Homo sapiens: one gene and its partners. The protein of the gene in region 2 interacts with the protein of the main gene of each other region in a biochemical or structural test. Each region holds a gene or a part of one and is shown on either strand. Other genes may lie near its edges.

Evidence for each region.
Region 1: the proteins of UBE2J2 (region 2) and RNF145 form a complex in vitro, tested with the Homo sapiens proteins (one study listed by BioGRID).
Region 3: the proteins of UBE2J2 (region 2) and HERC4 form a complex in vitro, tested with the Homo sapiens proteins (one study listed by BioGRID).

The regions. Positions count from the first base shown.
Region 1 is NC_000005.10:159,206,415-159,213,861, reverse strand, and holds the start of RNF145 (RING finger protein 145), read left to right. Parts: upstream 1-4,308; 5' UTR 4,309-4,631; intron 4,632-4,723; exon of another isoform or gene 4,724-5,965; coding exon of another isoform or gene 5,966-5,977; intron 5,978-6,035; exon of another isoform or gene 6,036-6,062; coding exon of another isoform or gene 6,063-6,107; intron 6,108-6,213; exon of another isoform or gene 6,214-6,384; coding exon of another isoform or gene 6,385-6,387; intron 6,388-7,447. UniProt on the Homo sapiens protein: E3 ubiquitin ligase that catalyzes the direct transfer of ubiquitin from E2 ubiquitin-conjugating enzyme to a specific substrate.
Region 2 is NC_000001.11:1,263,817-1,270,976, forward strand, and holds part of UBE2J2 (ubiquitin-conjugating enzyme E2 J2), read right to left. Parts: intron 4,177-7,160; coding exon 4,046-4,176; exon of another isoform or gene 3,954-4,045; coding exon of another isoform or gene 3,917-3,953; intron 2,475-3,916; coding exon of another isoform or gene 2,282-2,474; intron 1,775-2,281; exon of another isoform or gene 1,015-1,774; coding exon of another isoform or gene 967-1,014; intron 1-966. UniProt on the Homo sapiens protein: Catalyzes the covalent attachment of ubiquitin to other proteins. Seems to function in the selective degradation of misfolded membrane proteins from the endoplasmic reticulum (ERAD).
Region 3 is NC_000010.11:67,988,284-67,995,283, forward strand, and holds part of HERC4 (probable E3 ubiquitin-protein ligase HERC4), read right to left. Parts: intron 4,400-7,000; coding exon 4,323-4,399; intron 4,041-4,322; coding exon 3,916-4,040; intron 2,917-3,915; coding exon 2,857-2,916; intron 2,733-2,856; coding exon 2,621-2,732; intron 2,118-2,620; coding exon 1,928-2,117; intron 553-1,927; coding exon 380-552; intron 1-379. UniProt on the Homo sapiens protein: Probable E3 ubiquitin-protein ligase involved in either protein trafficking or in the distribution of cellular structures. Required for spermatozoon maturation and fertility, and for the removal of the cytoplasmic droplet of the spermatozoon.

The DNA of each region.
Region 1 (7,447 bases), on a different chromosome or scaffold from region 2:
TGCGTATGAATCACTTAGTGTTAATATAAAGTTACAATTTCATCTTTATCTCCCTATTAGAGAATAAAAGTTGACAATCAAATACTACAGACAGAAGGAAGGGAACTAGGCCAGGTGCTGTGGCTCATGCCTGTAATCCCAGCACTTTGGGAGGCCGAGGCATGTGGATCACTTGAGCCCAGACCAGCCTGGGCAACATGGCAATATCTTGTCTCAACACAAAAATTAGCTGGTGTGGTGGCGTATGCCTGTAGTCCTAGCTGCTCAGGAGGCTGAGGTGGGAGGACTGCTTGACCCTGTCTCGAGGAAAAAAAAAAAAAAAGAAGGAGGGGGAACTATTGAGGACTTTGTACCAAGAATATTAGCACACATCACTTCATTTATTTTTCACAACAACCCCGCAAAGTAGATATTATCACTATCCCTATTTTACAGACAATAAATGGAGGTGTTCTTAAGTTACGTACACTTGGCACAGGGTCCCATAGCTAGCAGATAGGAAGCATCTGAATAGAAGAGTAAATCTCTCATATACTGCTGGTGGGAATGTAAAATGATGCAGCCACTTTGGAAGACTATCTGGCAGTTCCTCAAAAAGTGAAACCATAGAGTTACTATATGACCCAGTAATTCTACCAAGACAAATGAAAATGTGTCCACACAACAACTTGTACATGAATGTTCATAACAGCACTATTCATAAATGCCAAAAAGTGGAAATAACTCAAGTGTCCATCAACTGATGAATGAATAAGCAAAACACGGTATATCTATCTACACAATGGAATTTTATCTGGCAAGAAAAGAAAATTAAGTACCAATACATGCTACACATGCATGGACCTCAAAAATGTTAAGTAAAGTAAGCCAGACACAAAATGCTACATATTGTATGATTCTCTTTATATGACAAGTCCAGAACATGCAAATCTGACAGAAAGATTAGTGACTGCAGAACAATTAATGATTGCTGAGGGCTGGGACGAGAAGGTAAGCAACTGCTAATGGATATGGGTTTTTTTTTCCCCGGCGGGAGGTTATGATGAAATGTTCTGAAATTGATTGTGGTGATGGTTACACAACTCTGAGGATATACTAAAAACCACTGAGTTGTACACTTTAAAACAGGTGGATTATATGTCAATTAAGCTGTATATATATATATATATATATATATATATATATGAAAAAAAGAGTGAACCGCCCTTTACCGAATAATGTTGCCTAACAAAACTATAGTTTTCCTTATAGAGTTGGCTCTCAAAATCAAACCATGAGGGTAGCCAGGTTGAATGGATTCTATATATTATCTAGACTCTTCTAATTAGGGAGTTGATTATTGAATTGGATATCTTTGAATATCTGGTTGTTTGAATTGGATAAAGAAAACCTCAAAGTGCCCAGAAAACATTAGGAACAAGAAAGTGTGTGAAGAAATGAAGACATGAAAATTCTCCCTCATATTCCCAATGCTGGCTATCCAAGGTTCTTTGGATTTTGGCCCCAACATGTGAAATCCGTTATATCATTTTCTCTAGATTTAGAAGGCAGTGCATAATAAAGTGGCCATCAGTTCCTGCGGATTTGCAACACAAGACTATTTCTATGTGACTATTAGCAATAGTTGGCTCTATCAGGAATTCAGGAACGAGTCTTTTGGAATGGCTAGAACTGGAACATATATGCACTCTTTCAAACTTTGTGCTGACTTCCTCCTCAATGTTGGATGCATTTAGACAGGAAGGAAGATAACCTTTCGAATCCTGAATGGTCTGCCATTGGGCAGTCATAAACATACCACTTCTTTCCTTCTAGCACCCTGGGTAAGTTCCTTTTATGACCAAGCTGTGGCATTTAGACATTTCCTTATGTTTCTTCCAGGTACTTAAGGACAAATTTAGCTCCTGGCTTTTCCTGATTTGGGTGGGTTTGGGTGCCTCTAGAAAGTACTTCCTCTACACTTGATTGAGCTCTTTTATTTGAGCTGCTCTCGATTCACCCGCCCCACCCCCACTTCTTTTTTCTTTTGCGTTGCTTTTTAGTTCTGTTTAATTACCTGCTTCTGGCAATGTGGAGCTTTCCCATAACTGGATTAGCAGCACTATAATAGCAGTAACCCTTTCATTACCAGAGTAATTTTCTTTACTTGTTTTGAACTTCAGCATTTACAGGCAGCTGCTATTAAGTTAAAAGGTAAAAAGACATGTGACTTTTTCCTGCTTTTACAAGTCCAGAATACTTCCAGTGAGGGTTACAGGGCTTTGAAGCCATTTTCTCCACTTTAAAAAAAGGAAAGGTAAGAGCTGAAGTAGGCCTCTCCTCCATTTAAAACACAAATCCAGTTAGAGACCAGCCTGACCAACATGAAGAAACCCCATCTCTACTAAAAATACAAAATTAGCCAGGTGTGGTGGTGCATGCCTGTAATCCCAGCTACTTGGGAGGCTGAGGCAGGAGAATTGCTCGAACCCAGGAGGCGGAGGTTGCGATGAGCCAAGATCACGCCACTGCACTCCAGCCTGGGCAACAAGAGTGGACTCCGTCTCAAAAAACAAACAAACAAACAAACAAAAACCACGCAAATCCAGCAACCATACTTCCTTTTAGAATCACATTTTCAGGATTCTGCCATTTATCCAAGAATAATAAATAAATAAAGTTAGAATTTAGTGTTACGTTCATTTTGACTTCTTTGTAATCTGTTTCTGGCCTTAGGTTTTCTTGACTCAGTCAGATGTAAAGTTGTTAAAACAGGGAGGGGATCAAGATAAGGCCTTGCTATCTTGGTCCATTTCCTATTCCAGTCATTATTCATGTGACCTCTGTAATTTTTTTACTTACCAGGCTAGATTAAGAGACTCATGAACTGCATCACTGGGATGTGACAGGATTTATGACTATGGTGAAGTAGTCTGAGGCACCTGGATGAAAGGTGGTTATAGTGAGTTATGTACACAATTCCCACACATTTTAAACACTTGATTCCTACAGAGCTATCAAACTAATGGAAGGCAAGTTACTCAGAGTTTGGTTGACTGATACCTCCAGGGATTGCATTTTCTAAATACAGAGCTTGCTTTCACAATTTCAGCAGGATACAAGAGTGTTCAGAATTGGGGGTTTACCATTCAAAGGGCAGAGGCCAGAGACTTGAATTTACAAGGAGGGTCCTCAACACAGACATCGAGATTACAGTACATTAATTTCTCTTGCACATGAAGAAGTTGAGGCTTCACAATTTCAGCATGACCCAGTATAGTTGCAACATCTTACCCATCACTGGGTGTGTATCTTCTGTGTACACTGGCCCTTTCAACATCTAAGGCCAGGCTAGGTGCTCATAGCAACTGGCTCCCCAGGAACTAACGAAAGAGAAAGCAAGAAACAGTGGAGGGGTTTTGGTGATGGTGGAAGGCAGGGGAGATAGAAGTGGGGGTTGCAGAAGGTCGTGGTGAGGCAGAGTGGCAGACAAATGGGGAATGAGAAGTCTTGCCAAGCCCAGAAGACTATCGTTGTGTAAACACACAATATGCTTCAGGCTATGTATTCTGGGCAACAGTTCCTGCCCTAAAAGGTGTGGACATTTAAATTAGGGTAGGATTGCGCATTCTGTGATAGAGACTGGCACAGAGACAAAGTGGAACTCCTCTACGTTGGGGAGGGGAAAACATACATTAGCCTGTTTTGAACCTTAGACCAAGACAAGACAAACACACAAACACCATTTAATTTCATACTGCAATAAAATTCTTTGTACCAAACCATGGGATCAAAATTGTTACAGATACTCAGTGAACAGTTCCAATGCATTCATTCATCCAGTCACTTACTCCACAGGGGTTTGAGTGCCTGCACTTGGTGCTGGGCACGGCTGAGCCATCCCAGACGCCAAGGAGTTTACAGTCTAGTCCAGTCAGTGACGAGGTTAAAACGAATTCTCGCATCATTGCTACTGCGAATGCACCGGGACAGGATCAGCCCTTCAAATTCTCCCACGTGGTCCCTGCAGGTGAGTGTGGGTGTGAGCGCTTGCGGCCCGTGGTGTTTGGGAGTGAGAGAGCACGTGTGTCAGAATGGCGCCTGTCACAGTGCGCGTCCAGGTGTCTCTGCAGTACGCCTCTCCATAGCCACCCGAGCCGGGCTGTATGGGCTTGGCTAGGCTTATGTCTCCCGCCCACGCACCGGAGGCGGTGCGGAAAGCACTCCGCGGGCGCGATTGTGAGTGAGCGCGGGCGCGCGCGGGAGGGGCGCGCCGCGCTGGCTGGGCCGCGCGCAGGCGCAGAGTGCGGAAGTCGGGCCGCGGCCGCCGCAGAGCGCCGGGGGCGGGAGGAGCAAACGCAGGAGGCCATGGCCGCCGACGCCGGCGCCGGCTGCTAAGGGGCTCGGCCCGCGAGCGCCTGCTGCCGCGGACGATGGTGACCGTACGGGCCGGGCCGCTGCCGCTGCCGCTGCCTCCGCCTCCCCAGAAGCAACATCCGAGGCTCGGCGCAGAAGAGCCGCCGCTGTGAGCCGTGCCGTACCGGCCCCCGCCGCCGCCCGAGGAGAACGGGAGGGCGGGCGAGAGAGCCGGGGAGTTGCGGAGCCCGCCCGCCGGCAGCGCCGCTCCCCAGGGAGGGAGTCCGCAGCCTGAGGTGACCACGCCGCCCGCCCGGCCCCTTCCCATCCCCGCGCCCCCCGGCCGCTTCCCACGGCCTCCCTCCCCTCCCCCATCGCGTCGCAGGCTCCTTCCTCTTCTCCCTGTTCGCCCCTTTCCTTTTATCTCGCTTCACCTCCCTCTTCTCCCTAGCATTGGAGGAGTCCACATCCCCTCTTCAGCCGCAGCACCCCTCCCTCCCATCCTCTAGCTCTTCCCGCGGTGGTCGCCTCCCTCCGACCCTGCTCTCCCCTCCTGGGCCCCGCGCAAAGCCCCCTCTGTTCCAGCTCCCGGGCCTCGGCTGCCTCCCCGCCCTCCCATCCCTTCCTCTTCCCAGGGCCTGGAGCGCTCCCTTACATTCCTGAGATGCCCTTCCTCGGGGCTGTCCCCCTTTGCCTCCCCAGCATCCCATTTCTAGGCCTTTTTCAAGACCCTTCCAGAGCGGCCCCTTTCCAGCTCCCTTTCTCGTTTCCATTTCCAACTTTGCCTCTTTTGCCTCTTTGTTCACTTTGCTTCCAAGCTCCCCTCCCTCTTTCCCTTCGTCTTACCCTGCTTTGATCTACGCAGCCCCAAACTCAAGCTCCCCGCTTTCAGGTGGTGCGAGGTTGTTTGGGGGTGCGGAAGGGCCTGCCAGTCCATTTTTCGAGGGGGGCCCATTGCTCTGCATCCCGTCCGTCAGTCCCTTTTATAGTAAGAGGGCTCCTCATCCCTTCCTTTTTGTCCCCGTGGTTTCCTCTGTCTTGCCATCCCTTCTGTCTTCTCCCTCCAATACTGCTTTCCCCACCCAAGGACCCTCAGACCCGTGAACCCCCTTTCTGGAATGAGTTCCCTTTCTGTTCGGGGATGCTGAACTTCGCCCGCGTTTTTCTTCGCGAGCCTTTTGGTACGTGGCGTGGCGCGACAGAGTCAGCACCCTTGGCGAGATAGGAGGGGAGCTCTCGAGCCTCTTTCCTGGAAGAGTTTTTGCTGAACGTAATCTCTTAGCCCCGCGGCGGCGGCGGCCCGGTTGCTGCTGCTACTGCTGCTGCGCTGCCTGCTTGCCGCGAGCTGGGTTGGGGTTACTGTAGTTCAAACGCATCTGAGATCTGCAGGCGTTGTGGGAGGAGGTGCGGGGAGAGAGGAAGGGGCCTGTGCAGTGAGCAGGCATCAAAGATTAGTGGATGGCCTTGCGTCGCAGTCTGCAGTAAAGAGGAAACTAGTCTGAAAGGGAAGGAGAGGACTGTGTGTCTTTTTATTTTTTAAAATACGGAGTGTGCAGTTTTACTGAATCTTGAATCATGCCCAAAAGAATGAGCTGTCGGTGCTGCAGTCGTGACCCAGGCTGAGCGGCCGATGGCAGAGGTAGCAGTTTTATTTCCTCTCTCTGTTCCTTAAGTTGAAAGATGGCCTTTGTATTCAGAGTAGACTCCCTGTCTTTGCGGTTTGGGAGATGATGAGAAACCACAGAATTGCTAGTAGTTTATGTGGAGATCAGGTACATACAAAGTTAGCTAGCAAGGAGTGGGAGTGGGGAGGACCAGCTATATTTAAAACATGTGCCATTGCTTATGTAAGAAATGCGTTCTCTTTCCTGGTATCTCAGTTCTGGGCTTTTACTTAGAATTTTAGGCTCTAGCTTTGTGCTCTTAACATTTTCAGTGAGGCCTACCATCCTAACCGATGGACAGCCCGAAAATTTACTTTTCTTAAGATCAGTTTTAGTTGATGGTAGAATTTTTTTTTTTAACTGGTTGGGAGAAAGAAAGGAGATAATGGTGAATGATGATTTTTGTTTTTCTTTTTTAGGGGGAAGGTGTAGAAGTATTGTACTGAATAGTTTTAAGTTGGGTCACGTGTCATTCTTGTTTTTTCTTTGTCTTTTTAAAAAAAAGTTTAGGAGGTGTATTTTTGAAGAACTCAAATAAGAGAAATAAAAAATCACATTTTTCATTTCTCTTATTTGACATAGTTCTTCAGAGATTAGCTGTGACTGTAAAAACCTACATTTTTCTTATTCAGGACGATTTGTTTGGTTTCTTCATATTCAAAACTAAAATCCCGTATTTTCAGGAAAGTGTAGAATGAAGCCCCCTGTGTTTTCTAACCCACAAATTTGAATGGTAAACTGTACAGCATTATACTTCTACAAGACATTACTGTTTTCATAATTACGGATTGCTGCTTCTAAGCCTGAGAAGGTCATTTAATGAACTCATTGAGGTCTCCTTTTTGGTTAGCATTTGTTGCACCTCTTGTGGTTTTTGGAAAGAAATGCCTTTTTTTTTTTTGGTTTGTTTTTAGCTGTTTTACTGTGTAAAACATCTTTGAGTCACATTTAGTTTATGTTACCTGCAGACACATCATGTTGGATATTACTTTCCCAGTTCTTTTCAAAGTTCAAGGAGGACATTTTAAAATCTTGCATGGAAGATAAAACAGTATAGGAAGTTTATGTATTTGGCTTTGGGTGTGTTAAACCTTTCGGTTTTTTCTGCTTTCAGCTCTCCTGCTTATTTTCTAGGATTATTTGGTATTATTTTGTTTTCAAGAGAATATTGAGCTCCCCTGTACTTTAGGATATGCTGATTAGCCCTGTTTGACAATAAATCTGGAACAGGATAAATTAGGCAACATTATAAAGGTATTCTCTAGATCAGGAGAGAAGGCTCCATTTTACTTCGTGTTTGTATGATATAGTGATTTGGCAGGTGTGAGTAATTGCAAGTACTTGCAAAGAAGATGAATATTTTAAAGTTTTGTTTTGATGTTGGTTTAGTGTGTGGTGCTAAAGTGTAGTGTAAAGTACCTATTTGTATTGATAACTATCATGTGCTC
Region 2 (7,160 bases):
ACCCCACCTTTATTTAAAAAAAAAAAGTTAGCCGGGTGTGGTAGTGCATGCCTGCAGCCCGCCTACTCAGGAGGCTGAGGCGGGAGGATCACTTGAGCCCAGGAGTTTAAGGCTGCAGTGAGCTATGATTGTGCCACCACATCCCATTTGGGCAACAGAGTGAGACCCTATCTCCAAAGAAAAAACGATGTACTTTGAAATGTATATTCTTAAATGTACTTATATATAATGTGTTTTTTGATATCACACATGCAGGCTAAACAGAACACAGCTAGTGATGCGGGGCCGGCTCGGTACCCCCAGCCCTTTCTCGTGCTCCTGGAAAAACCATAAGTGACTTGAGCAGCTGTCCTGGAGCAGAAGGAACAGGAACTGCCGTGATTGTGTCCAAAGCCACAGTCCCCACACAGAGCTCACCCTCAGACCAGGGGCAGCAGCAAATCGACTAAACACTCCTCCACACAAATAAATAAGGCTTCTGCTTTACGTAAAGAAGTGTCTGGGCTTTACAGATTCCCAAACGAAACAGAAGAGCACAGAGAAGAAAGTAAAACCAGCTAGAAATGCCAGAAACCAGACATGGCTTCAACTGCCAACACCGGCCAACACCGGCCATCATCTTTCCCCTTGCTCTGCCCCAGGACATGTGTGCCATCACTTTAAAACTAATGGGGGCTGGGCTCGGTGGCTCATGCCCGTGATCCCAGCACTCTGGGAGGCCAAGGTGGGTAGATCACCTGAAGTCAGGAATTCGAGACCAGCCTGGTCAACATGGCGAAACTCCGTCTCTACTAAAAATACAAAAATTAGGCCAGGTGCGGTGGCTCACACCTGTAATCCCAGCACTTTGGGAGGCTGAGGCAGGTGGATTGCCTGAGGTCAGGAGTTCAACACCAGCCTGGGCAACACGGTGAAACCCTGTCTCTATTAAAAATACAAAAATTAGCCAGCCATGGTGGCACACACCTGTAATCCCAGCTACTCAGGAGGCTGAGCCAGGAGAATCGCTTGAACCTGGAAGACGGAGGTTGCAGTGAGCCGAGGTCACACCGCTGCACTCCAGCCTGAGTGACAGAAATAGTACTCAAAAGAAACTACTAATGGGATGACGTATAGTAATGTATACTAATGGGATGATGTATCAGCAGAGCCAGCTGGTATGTTTTACTCAAAAAATGCCATTATCATGTGTCATTGACCCAGGAACCCAGTGGCTCTGAGCTCAGCACGCGATGCACCCAGGAATGTGGCCTTACGTTGTTACTGTGCCCAACCTGCGAAAACTGGGAAGAAATGAAGAAGTCATCCTCTTCCTGAGACAGAGCCCAGCAGCCTTGGGGCGGCTGAGAGAAGATGGGATCCACGTGGCCCATAGCGCACCCCACAGGCCTTTTCTGGGAAAGCAGTCTTCTCTCGGGGAAGGGAGAGACACCTGCCGAGGACCTGCCAGGGGCTCTCGCACTGACGCTGCTGTCCTTAATGCCTCAACAGTACAGGCAACATGGGCTACGCTGAGCCCCTGCTCTCCTGGAAGTCTGGTATTTTGGTATTTTGGCAGGTGCCAGGCAGAGGGTGCCTAGGACCAGCCCCATAAAGTCCCTGGGCCTTCCCCTAATGTTTTAGTTTCCAATGAGTTTCTCTGCTCAACATTCCACACATGCCGTCCAAACCCAAGCCTGCTGCTGGGAATGGAGCACAGAGACTTTGCCCCACATGCCTCTTCCGCTGGCTGACTGCAGTTTTCTCTCGTGTGTGTGTGTGTGTGTGTGTGTGTGTTTTCTCTCCATTGTGTGTGTGTGTGTGTGTGTGTGTGTGTGTGTGTGTGTGTGTGTGGTGGAGTCTCACTCTGTCGCCAGGCTGGAGTACAGTGGTGCGATCTCAGCTCACTGCAACCTCCGCTTCCCGGGTTCAAGCGATTCTCCTGCCTCACCCTCCCAAGTAGCAAGTAGCTGAGATTACAGGCGTGCGCCACCATACCGGGCTAATTTCTGTATTTTCAGTAGAGACAGGGTTCCACCATGTTGGCCAGGCTGGTCTCAATCTCCTGACCTTGTGATCCACCCACCTCGGCCTCCCAAAGTGCTGGGATTACAGGCATGAGCCACTGTGCCTGGACTTCTCTCCGTAATTTTAATGGTGAGTATTCTTTGTGAATCATCGAACCTGCACCGGGACTTGGGGACGCCTGACCCACAGATTTGTGGGGAGGGATTTCCCCACACAATGAAGACGTCCTCGCAACCAGCGAGGAGGCGGCTACCGTGGAACTTGTCCCTCTCACCTGCCAGCGATGTCCTGGGGCCACATGTGATTTTCAACACTGGGGGCAGAGAGCACTCTGGTGGCCAAGGGGCTCCGCCTCACCCTGGGTATCCTCCGCCTGCCTGGGCTGGGCCTCCTCTGTGAGCCAGAGAAGGTGGACCCCTGACCAAGCCGAAACACATTTCCTTTCAACTCACTGAAATATCTTTTCTCTGGAATTAAAAAAAATTAGGCCAGGCATGGTGGCTCAAGCCTGTAATCCCAGCACTTTGGGAGGCTGAGGCAGGCAGATCACCTGAGATAAGGAGTTCGAGACCAGCCTGACCAATATGGTGAAACCCCATCTCTAAGGCAGGAGAATTGCTTGAACCAGGGAGGCGGAGGTCACAGTGAGCCGAGATCACGCCATTGCACTCCAGCCTGGGCGACAGAGCAAGACTCTGTCTCAAAAAAATAAATAAGGCCGGGCGTGGTGGCTCACGCCTGTAATCCCAGCATTCTGGGAGGCCAAGGCGGGCGGATCACGAGGTCAGGAGATCAAGACCATCCTGGCTAACACGGTGAAACCCCGTCTCTACTAAAAATACAAAAACAAAAAATTAGCCGGGCATGGTGGCAGGCGCCTGTAGTCCCAGCTACTTGGGAAACTGAGGCCAGAGAATGGCATGAACCCGGCAGGCAGAGCTTGCAGTGAGCCGAGATTGTGCCACTGCACTCCAGTCTGGGTGACAGTGCAAGACTGTCTCAAAAAATAATAATAAGTAATTTTTTTTTAAAAGATCAAAATATAAAACATCCTTACATTTTATTTTATTTTATTTTATTTTGAGACAGAGTTTCGCTCTTGTTGCCCAGGTTGGAGTGCAGTGGTGTGATCTCAGCTCACTGCAAGCTCCGCCTCCCGGGTTCAAGCGATTCTCCTGCCTCGGCTTCCCGAGTAGCTGGGACTACAGGTGTGCGCCATCATGCCCAGCTAATATTTGTATTTTTAGTAGAGACAGGGTTTCACCATGTTGACCAGGCTGGTCTCGAACTCCTGACCTCAGGTGATCCGCCCGCCTGAGCCTCCCAAAGTGCTGGGATTACAGGTGTGAGCCACCATGCCCGGCCTCTCACACTTTATTTCTTACCAAATTACTAGCAGACCTGTAATGGCAGTGTTTCGACAGAGCAGTATGCACTCTCACACTCTATACTTCAGCAAGGGGGAGAGTCACCATGAGGTGAATGCTTATGAGGCACAGGTCCTCTCGTTGTCAGCCTGAGGGTCGGGGCACCTGGCCCAAGCCAGTGCCAGGGACAGGAGTGTCGGACCCTAGTCCTGTCAAATACTCCAAGCCAAAACAGGCTAATTCCCATATCCAGAAGCAAAGAGCAGAGTCTAGAAAGGCAGTTTCTCCTCTAAGTGCCTAGAGTGCACACCAGCAACAGCTGTGAACCCTGCATACCTGGACCCCTCCCCTAAGGACCCCACACCAGAGACTCTCTCCAGCCCCAACCTGAGTCAACCTGGACCCCGCCCCCCTCAAGGGCCCCACACCGGAGATTCTCTCCAGCCCCAGCCTGAGTCAAGCATGGCTCTGTGATGTCCCCGGCATGCGTCCATTGGGAAAAGACCAGAGAGTGTCCACAGGCCCCTGGGCACCCCACTCACCCCGGGGGAGGGTGCAGGAGCACCTTGCCAATGCCATGACTGGGGCACCAGGCTCGCCCAGCAGGGGCCGGCAGAGGCCTGCGTGGCAGCGACAGTCAGCGCAGGGCGATCAGTGGCGCGGAGCCTTACCACTCGAGAATATTCGAAGGGAGGGGCTCGGCACAGATGTAAGGCACCGGGTCTTTCTTAATGCGAAGGTAGTCCTGCTTCAGCCTCTGGGTTGCCGTGGTCGGAGCCCTCTTACTGCTGGTGCTGCTCATCTGTTAAAAGCAACGTCTACACTGACGACGAGAAGCAGCGCCGGCCACAGCTCTCTCCCCTGGCGCAGCCCCACTCCCGCCTCTGCAGCCCGCCATTCATTCAGGGCCCGGTCACCCAGAGTCACAGCTCACAGGTCACCCTCGCTTGCCACCCGCCCAGACACCCAGAGGCCCTGCGGCTTCTCTCTTCCCGTCTGTCCCGCCACCACCTTCATTGACACGACGTACAGCTCAGGTACAAAGACGAGGAGAAACCCAAAGCCTCGTTCCTGTCCTCCAAAAACTCACGCAGGGATACATTTACAGGGCTTGAGGGGGTATTCGGGCCACAGCCTCAGACCAGCTCCTGAGGGCAGCTACTCGCACCTTCCAACTCAGCTCAAGGACCCCGCACTGATGGAGAATCCACACCATAGAAGTGGGCAGGCACCACCGCCGGCCCCTTCACCGCACCCGGAAGCCCGCTGCCCAGCATTTACCACTAGCCACAAGCAAAACGAGCCGCAGAACGGGGGAGCCTCTGCGGCTGGAGGGACGAGGACTCTGGAGACTCCAAGGCACTCACTGGGCAGAGCAGCTGTCTTCCTGGTAGAAGGGGCCACAGGTGAACAGGCCACACCTGAGAAAGTGCAGTGTGCAAGGGCCCAAGCACAGTGAGGGCAGGGATAAGACTGGCCAGGGAGGCAGGGCCAGGGCATAAGAGTTTATTTACTTATTTTTCGTGAGACAGGGTCTTGCTCTGTCGCCCAGGCTGGAGTCACTGTGGCCTTGACCACCTCGGCTCAAGCAATCCTCCCACCTCAGCCTCCTGAGTAGCTGAGACTACAGACGCATGCCACCACGCCTAGCTAATTTTTTTTTTTTTGTAGAGCTGGGATCTCACTATGTTGCCCAAGGTGGTCTCAAACTCCTGGCCTCAACTGATTCTCAGGCCTCAGCCTCCGGAAGTGCTGGAATCACAGGCAGGAGCCACGGTAACCCGGGCCCCACAGGGGTTTGGGGTCCAAGCCTCAAGGCAGATCATATCTTCTGTTAGGAAAGTCACTCTGGTGGCTCCATTGGGACGTTCAAGACAGCACTGAAGGCCGAGCATGGGGCGCGAGGCACCATGCAAGAGAGGAGGCTGGATCAGGGACCCCAAGGCCCCTCAGCCACACCCGAGACTGGGGAGAGGGGTGGTGATCATCATGCAAGAGAGGAGGCTGGATCAGGGACCCCAAGGCCCCTCAGCCACACCCGAGACTGGGGAGAGGGGTGGTGATCATCATGCAAGAGAGGAGGCTGGATCAGGGACCCCAAAGCCCCTCAGCCACACCCGAGACTGGGGAGAGGGGTGGTGATCATCATGCAAGAGAGGAGGCTGGATCAGGGACCCCAAGGCCCCTCAGCCACACCTGAGACTGGGGAGAGGGGTGGTGATGAAAACAGGGCTCCCTGCTGCATCAGACTAGCTCCAACTCAAACCTTATTTTTTTTTTTTTTTTGAGATAGAATCTCACTGTTCGTTGCCCAGGTTGGAGTGCAGTGGTGTGATCTCCGCTCACTGCAACCTCTGCCTCCTGGGTTCAAGTGATTCTCCTGCCTCAGCCACTCAAGTAGCTGGGATTACAGGTGCCTGCCACCATGCCAAGCAAATTTTTTTTGTATTTTTAGTAGAGACGGGGTTTCACCATGTTGGTCAGGCTGGTCTCGAACTCCTGACCTCAGGTAATCTGCCCACCTCGGCCTCCCAAAGTGCTGGGATTACAGGCGTGAGTCCCCGCGCCCAGCCATGGCCACACGATTTAATAACGTCTGTGGACATCAGTGGCCATCGATAACGGACAGTGACCAGTGATCTCCATCCTGACCTCCCAGTTCCCACAAACCGGAAGTCTACTCTACCCAGTTTCCTTGCTGATATGCTTTGGCTATGTCCCCACCCAAATCTTATATTGACTTGTAATCCCCATAATCCCCCATGTTGAGGGAGGGACCTTGTGGGAGGTGACTGGATCATGGGAGCAGTTTCCCCAAGCCGTTCCAGTGAAAGCGAGTTCTCAGGAGATCTGATGGTTTATAAGGCAGTGTTCCCTGCTCTTGCCCGCTCTCTCTAGCCTGCTGCCATGTGAGACATGCCTCTTCCCCTTCCGCCATGATTGTAAGTTTCCTGAGGCCTCCCTGGCCACACGGAACTGTGAGTCCATTAAACCCCTTTTCTTTATAAATTACTGAGTCTCGGGTACATCTTTATAGCAGCATGAGAACCAACTCATACACCTGTAGACAGCCACACATTCCACCTCCTTTCAGTCTCCACCTGCAAGAGATCTACAGACTTGGCCTCTCTAACCGGTTTATTCCTCCTCAGAGAACCACCACCAGCAGCCTGTTTAGTGTCTGCTCCCAACCTGAGGATGTCAATGGCCAGGGCTTGGCTGCTCACCCCACACACCCAGGGCCTGGAGTGCAGAGCTCAGCCAGGGCACCCAACGCGTGCTCCCAAATGTGTGGCCTCAGCACCACCCCCAACCCTGCTTCTTGTTCTGGGGTCCCTGACTCTTGCAATCCTTGTTCACCACAGCCTTCCCACTCTCATTATCTTCTCTAACGCAAAATGTCATCACTTCTCCCATCAACACCACAGGAGCCTCCCAACTCCCCCCGTGGGTCCAGAAGGTCTGAGCTTCTAGTCTCTTCCCATTTCAAGGCCCTCCTGTACCCATAAGTCAACATACTGTTCCGATCACCCACTCCCCCATCCACCCTTCAGGATACTCCACAGCCAAGCAAATAAACATCAACACGTCCTCTTGCCTGCCAGCCCCTTGACAGAGGCAGCCCCAGCCAGCCCTCCTCATTCCCAGCTCCCAAGACAGAGCAGCCCCAGCCAGCCCTCCTCGTTCCCAACTCCCAAGACCCAGCACGGCCCAGGTCCCACTCCAAAGTCCTGACCGACACACTCCTTCTCACAGCTGCTTCCCAGCCTAGCCTGTACTGGAAAC
Region 3 (7,000 bases), on a different chromosome or scaffold from region 2:
ATGTTCATAATTACAACTAGGACCCAATCTCTTTCACAAGATAACCACTTACAGCTAACAAAAACCATATAATGCAAACTAACAAATTATATTCTTCATAAGGAAATATAAGGAGAATTCTAACTCATTAGTATGTTATTGTTCTGCCCAACTATGGATAAGTTATCTATACATGCCTAACAAAGTCAGGTAAGACCAGAGCTCCAAAGGACAGGTTTATTACTTCTTTTAAGAGAAAGTATAGATAACTTTTCCAAATTTCTATAATATGCATTGTTTTTGCCAATCTAAATCTTTAATAGATTAATGTTAAAATGAACAGTATCAATCTGTTAATAGGAATGGGGAAAGAGGAAAATAAAGGAATGATTGGACATACCCTATGTAGTATTTCTAAAACCTTTAATGCAGTATGAAGAAAACTGTTGAAAATTCTTCTTTCAGAAGGGGGAATACCGATCTTGTAGAGTTTCAAAAGATGTACCACAACTTCCTTAAAAAGTTCTACTATCTTGAGGAATAGTGGAGGTTCAAGTACTGACCACCAGTTTTCTGTTATTAAAAAGTGAACATGCAAATAAAATGAATTTTTTAAAAAATCACAATTTTCAAAATCATACTGACTTTTTTTCTGAAACAGTAGTTGTTAAACCTGAGAAAACCCCAGAAAGATGCATATAACACAATATCTTATGTAACATTTGTAAGGTTTATAAACCTCCCCCCGACCAAGTTAAACAATATTGTCCGAAAAGCTCTCAAAAGCAAAAATAAAGTGTGAAAGTCTTGTTGAATTTATATTCTTGGTTTCCTAAGTTATATAAAAAACTCACCACTATACCTAATATTAAAACCAGTTTTTAAAAAATGTTTTGAAAATTACAGTTTCAATTTTTAAACAAAACATCCTTTAAATTGTATTGCTCTAATACTAAAGGATCTTTCTAACTTTTATCTTTCAATTTAATATATGGTTGAAATATTGTGAACCACTACCTTTAAAATGCAAGGTACTCCTGAAGATCAAATACAGAAGCTGAACAATGTAAAGTGTAACATATGGGTCCTTCCCCACATTCACTATTTGTAGTTACTAAGTACAAACACTTCAATCCTATGAAGCAGGCAGAAAGAATACAAAAACTTCTGACAACAGGAAAGCAATACTCTTTTCAGTCCCTGCTTGACTCTTTTTCCCTCAGATTCCCATATTCTACCCCTTGCTTGTTGCTTCCTCCATTTACCCTCAGCCTTAAAGTTCTTGTACTGACATTATTACTTCTATATATCTCAGCTCCACATATCTAACAAATACCATTAGAAAGAAAAGCACTGGGTTAAATGTAGCAAAAAAAGTATAAAGGCCAGGAAATAGAGATAAAATCTAGACAATTAGAAAAATTAAAGTGAGAAAACTTTATGCCAAAAAACCAGAACAGTAAGAGATAGAAGTGCAAGATCAGATGAGCAATAAAATCTAGTCTATAGGCAGAAAAATAAAATCAAATATCATGAAATTAGCAAGTGAAGGAAACACAAGATAAAGGGCTTATATCAGGGTTCCAAGAAGATTTAAAGCCCATGTTTGTTCAGTTTTAATTGTTCCTCCTCCTTTACTTCTTTAATAGCAAGATTATACTAAAGGCGATGAGGGAAAGGAATACGGGTGACAGTTTTTAACTTTCCTAATACTGTCTCTGCTGTTATGTTTAATTGAACTTCTATATCTAACATGTTTTTCTTTCAACAACTCCAACAACTAGAATCAAAAGACTAGACAAAAGCAAGAAAAGGAAAAACAGGTTCATTTTTGCCTAAGACAGTGTCAAATAAGCAGGGCAGCAGAACTGCAAATGGCAAAAGAACTTATGAAGCATTTTCATTTAAAGAGAAAAGGTTTCAAAAGAAAAAATATTAGAATTCTTACCAAGTACTTTCAGTGGTGCCTTTTCTAGGTTCACAAGAGCTGTACCAAAGGGAATTGCTATTGTTGTGAAATTGTTGGAATCACTCATCAGGGGACATTCTGGTAGAGTAAGATAAAACCTCAATGCTTCAACATCAGGTAAGGAGCTAGTCAGTTTAGGAATAAGATTCTTTTCCAAACTAGCTGCCACCTATATTTTGACAAAAAGTAAAACCTACTTCATTTAAAATGAATACACTTTCAAAGAAAAAAAAAAAAAAGGAAGGCAGGAAGAAAAGAAAGAAAAGGAAAATTTTGCACTACAGCAAATATGAAATGGTGAAGAAGAAAAAAGAAAGACAATGTCTTACAATGAATATACTTTGGAGCACAATGAAAATTAATGCCTAAGCATTACTTGGAGAATTTAAAAAATCACGTGTACAAGTCTCAATTTAAACTCTCTACCTCTATAACCATACACAAACTTAAGCAACGTGGTAATGTTAAGTAATTCAGGGTCTGCTTCAAACATCTGAAAAGATTTATAGATCTTTGACAGCTAAATTACAAATGCTTTAAAATAAAATCTTATTTTAAAAGCACATCGTAAGAGTCTGTGAAACTGCAAAGTAAATTAGGCTATAAACGTATAAAACAAAAGAAAACAAAATCAACAGATAATACTGTAAACATAATACTTTAAAAACAGACCTGCTGAGATATCTGCGGATGATCAGGTTGTATAAGTTTGTGGAATAAAAGCCTAGCAGCATTCATATCAACCCCTGAAAATCTGGTACCTGTTCTATAGTGATCATCATTGCTAAAAAACAGAAAAGAAAAAAAAAAATAGAATAAAAATTTAAAATTATTTCATTTTTTAATTTGATATACTATTTAAGACAATAAATTTGAAAATTTCAGCATATTAAAGAATTGCCACTTACCTAACAGCTAAAAAACTTCCATTTAGGCAACCAGAGGAAGAAAACGTTCCATCTATCTCACTAAAAAATTTAAAAAAGTTTTTTTAATCATAGAATCAGAAATTTAATTGTTTACCCTTTCTTAAAAAAGAATTAAAATGAATAATTAATCTAATGTTTAATGCTACAGAGCACTCCTCTAACACCCAATTAGATGAATCAGAATTACATAAATTGCTAAAGACTGATAAAATAATACTTGATGAAGGTATTACTGTTTATTCTAGACTTTCTTAAATATTACTTTCATCCATTTATCCAATGTTATCTGCTTTAAAACATGGTATTTTAAAAATTAAGTGTGTATGTTCATGTAAAAAGTTTTTTAATTTAAAAAAATTTTAAACATTTTATATTGGCAGTGAGCCTAATCTGGGATGCCTTTGGGATTTTCAGAAAAATTATAGTTTTGGAAAACAAGCTAGAGAAACAAAACAGCTTTTCAAATACAACCCATCATCCCAAATACCAACAAAAAACAAATAACATCTTAAGTGCTACTAGGCAAGTTAACAAAATATTCAAGAAAGAAATAATACTCAAGTCTTCCACAAAGTATAAAAGTTAAGATAGTGACCATTATAAAACCAGAAGGAACACATTTCAAGGCCAATCCTAAAATGGCTACATTAAATATTTTATGTTATCATTTAACATATCTCTATGCACATGAAAGAACTACAACTTATACATATTTAATTAAGATCTTTAAAAATATCCATGGATATTTTTTTTTGGAGACAAGTTCTCACTTTGTTGCCCAGGCTACAGTGCAATGGTGTTAATCTCAGCTCACTGCAGCCTCGACCTCCTGGGCTCAGCTGATCCTCCCACCTCAGCCTCCCAAGTAGCTGAGACCACAGGTGTGCACCACCACGCCCAGCTAATTGTATTTTTTTGTAGAGACAGGGTTTTGCCATGTTGCCCAGGCTGGTCTCCAATTCCTGGGCTCAGGCAATCTGCCTGGTGCTGGGATTACAGGCATGAGCCACTGTGCCTGGCCCAAAATGCTTTTCTTACTTGGCTATCTCCACAGGAAACCTTCCAGAAGGATAGCTCAGCCATTTCTGAATTAGAGCTTCATTCACTGTCCAGATCTGCTTTGTCGGATTGGGACATCTGAAGTCATCTGGTGGCCCACAGTTCTAAATTTTCAAATAAGATTAGTCAGAGGGAAGAGATATTATATATAACTCAAAAACCAAGAAATTCCCACCATATATTTGTTCTTTAAACAGAATTAAATCTCTCCTGAACACCTGAAACAAAAACCTATCAAATAGATCAGAAAAAACTTATTCTGTAGACTTAAGGGGAAAAAAACTAAGGCAATTACTTTGTAACATATAAAGAACATTAATAATGGGTTTTTAAAATTTGTCAAAATTATTGGAGCTATTTAATTATTTACATGACTATATTATTACCTGGGGACTAGAGTAATGTGAAAAGCTTTGATCTCCCCCTGAGAAAATTCTTTTTACACAGAAATATTCTTCAGAATCTGTAATAAAAATGTAAAAAATTAAAAGCCAAGATTTACATAACATATTTCAGAGCATCAATATGCCATTAGATTTTCACATAATCATCTTATTTAATAAGGCCTCCCATTCATGGACTTCATGGTATAAAGTGACTTGAAATATTCTGACTGCTATGGGGATGAGACTGACCAAATGATGAACATTAAACGATCCCACAAGCATAAGCAGCATTTGGTGAAGTTTACAAGCCTTTCTTCTGCCCTGCACCAAGAAAAAAAGCTTTTTCTAATCTGCATCTCAGTATATTTCAGTTTAAACCAAAGATGATTTAAAAAAAATAGAACAAAAGCTACAAAAGATAGCTAGAAGGAAATAAAAATCAAGAGTATTTATTCTTGGCGAGGCACAGTGGCTCATGCCTGTAATCCCAGCACTTTGGGAGGCTGAGGTGGGAGGATCATTTGATGTTAGGAGTTCGACGCCAGCCTGGCCAATATAGTGAAACCCCATCTCTACTAAAAATACAAAAATTAGCCAGGCGTGGTGGTGTGTGCCTGTAATCCCAGCTACTTGGGAGGCTGAGACAGGAGAATCGCTTGAACCCAGGAGGCGGAGGTTGCAGTGAGCCGAGATCACCCCACTGCACTCCAGCCTGGGCCAGAGCATAAGACTCCACCTCAAAAAAAAAAAAAAAAGAAAGAATTGAACTGGGCTACAGTGGCACATGTCTGTAGTCCCAGCTACTTGGGAGAGTGAGGCAGGAGGATGGCGTGAGCCCAGTTCAAAGCTGCAGTATGCTATGACTGCATCTGTGACTAGCCACTGCACTCCAGCAAGCAACATAGCAAGACCCATCTCTAAAAAAAAAAAAAATTATTCTTAAAAAGAAACAGCAAACAAAAATTAAAACTTCTGGAGTAAATATTTCATAATGCAGAATTTTTTTTTTCAATATAGGTGTACAAGATAATACATACAGCTCTTTGTTGGCAGCTATTTGTCAGTAAAAGCCAAATTAGGCCCCAAAGTGAATACATTAATAAGCAAATTTATTAGGAATAAAGAAAGGGCAACAAAGTTTCTTTTGAAAAAGATATTCCGGGCCTCTTTTTTTTCTTTTCTTCTGCTCCCCAAACTGGAAAGAGTATCTATTACCAAAAATATTGCTTGGCTAGTCCATAGTCTATCCCTGTTATCCTATTCCCATTCCTTAGTTGACTAATTCTTCACCTTGTATTATTTGTGACCATGGCTGCTATAGAATTATCCATTCTTTTCAAGGAAATGACCACATGTTAATTTCCTTGATTATTCCTTACAAGCAAGCACAATGTTTTATTTGTAAAAGAAATCAGTAAATACCTGTCCATACAAATATGCAATTGTTATCTAGGTTATACCAAAAATGAGCTTCAGAGTTTAGAACAATAATTTGATAATTACTATCAAATTTTCCGTAAGTCACAAGAATACCCTAAGGCCAAAAACAAGTTTTAAGAATAGAATAAAAGGGTAAATCTTTATTAAATAAGCCAATTATTCAACCTAAAATCTTTTTTCTAAATAATTCTCACAAATCTATATGGAATTGCTCATTTCCTCAAAAGATTTAGCAGGATGTTATTTATTTACTCTTAAAATGTGATTGTGCCCTCTATAAACAATTCCCTACAAGATGGTTGACTAATCTACAGTACATGAATGGGTTTCTGGAGGCTATGAGTTAGGTACCAAAAGTTAAGTTTCCTTAATTTCCTTTTTTTATTTTTATTTATTTCTTTTTTGAGACGGAGTTTCACTCTTGTTGCCCAGGCTGGAGTGCAGTGGCGCGATCTTGGTTCACCGCAACCTCCATCTCCCAAGTTCAAGCGATTGTCCCACCTCAGCCTCCCAATTAGCTGGGATTACAGGCATGGGCCACCACTCCTGATTAATTTTTTATTTTTAGTAGAGACGGGGTTTCTCCATGTTGGTCAGGCTGGTCTCGAACTCCCAACCTCAGGTGATCCGCCCACCTCAGCCTCCCAAAGTGTCAGAATTACAGGTGTGAGCCACTGCACCTGGCCTTATTTTTATTTTTTGAGACAGGTCTCACTCTGTCGCCCGGGTTGGAGTGCAGTGGCATGATCTCGGCTTACTGCAACCTCAGCCTCCCGAGTAACTGAGATTACAGGCGCCCACCACCACATCTAATTTTTGTATTTAGTACAGATGGGGTTTCACCATTTTGGTCAGGCTGGTCTCGAACTCCTGACCTCAAGTGATCTGCCCACCTCAGCCTCCCAAAGTGCTGGGATTACAGGTGTGAGCCACTGCATCCTATCCTTAATTTCCTTTTAATCACTACTCGAAAAAGTTTGAGAAACCTAGTCATTTGTCCTGTACAACTTTATGCAGACTGGATTTTGCTGACTTTATCTTTGTGGTTTCTCCTAACATTTGGCTTGGTCTTCTGTTCTGTAAATTGGTGGTTGAATCTAGACAGGTTTCAATCACCATTTGGTTATTTCAGTAAAACTACTACATGGAGGCAGGAGAGTAGTTCCATCAGGAAACACATAATTCCTTTGAGAAGAATTTTCACTGAGTTCTTTTTTGTGGTGGTAGTAGGCATTGAT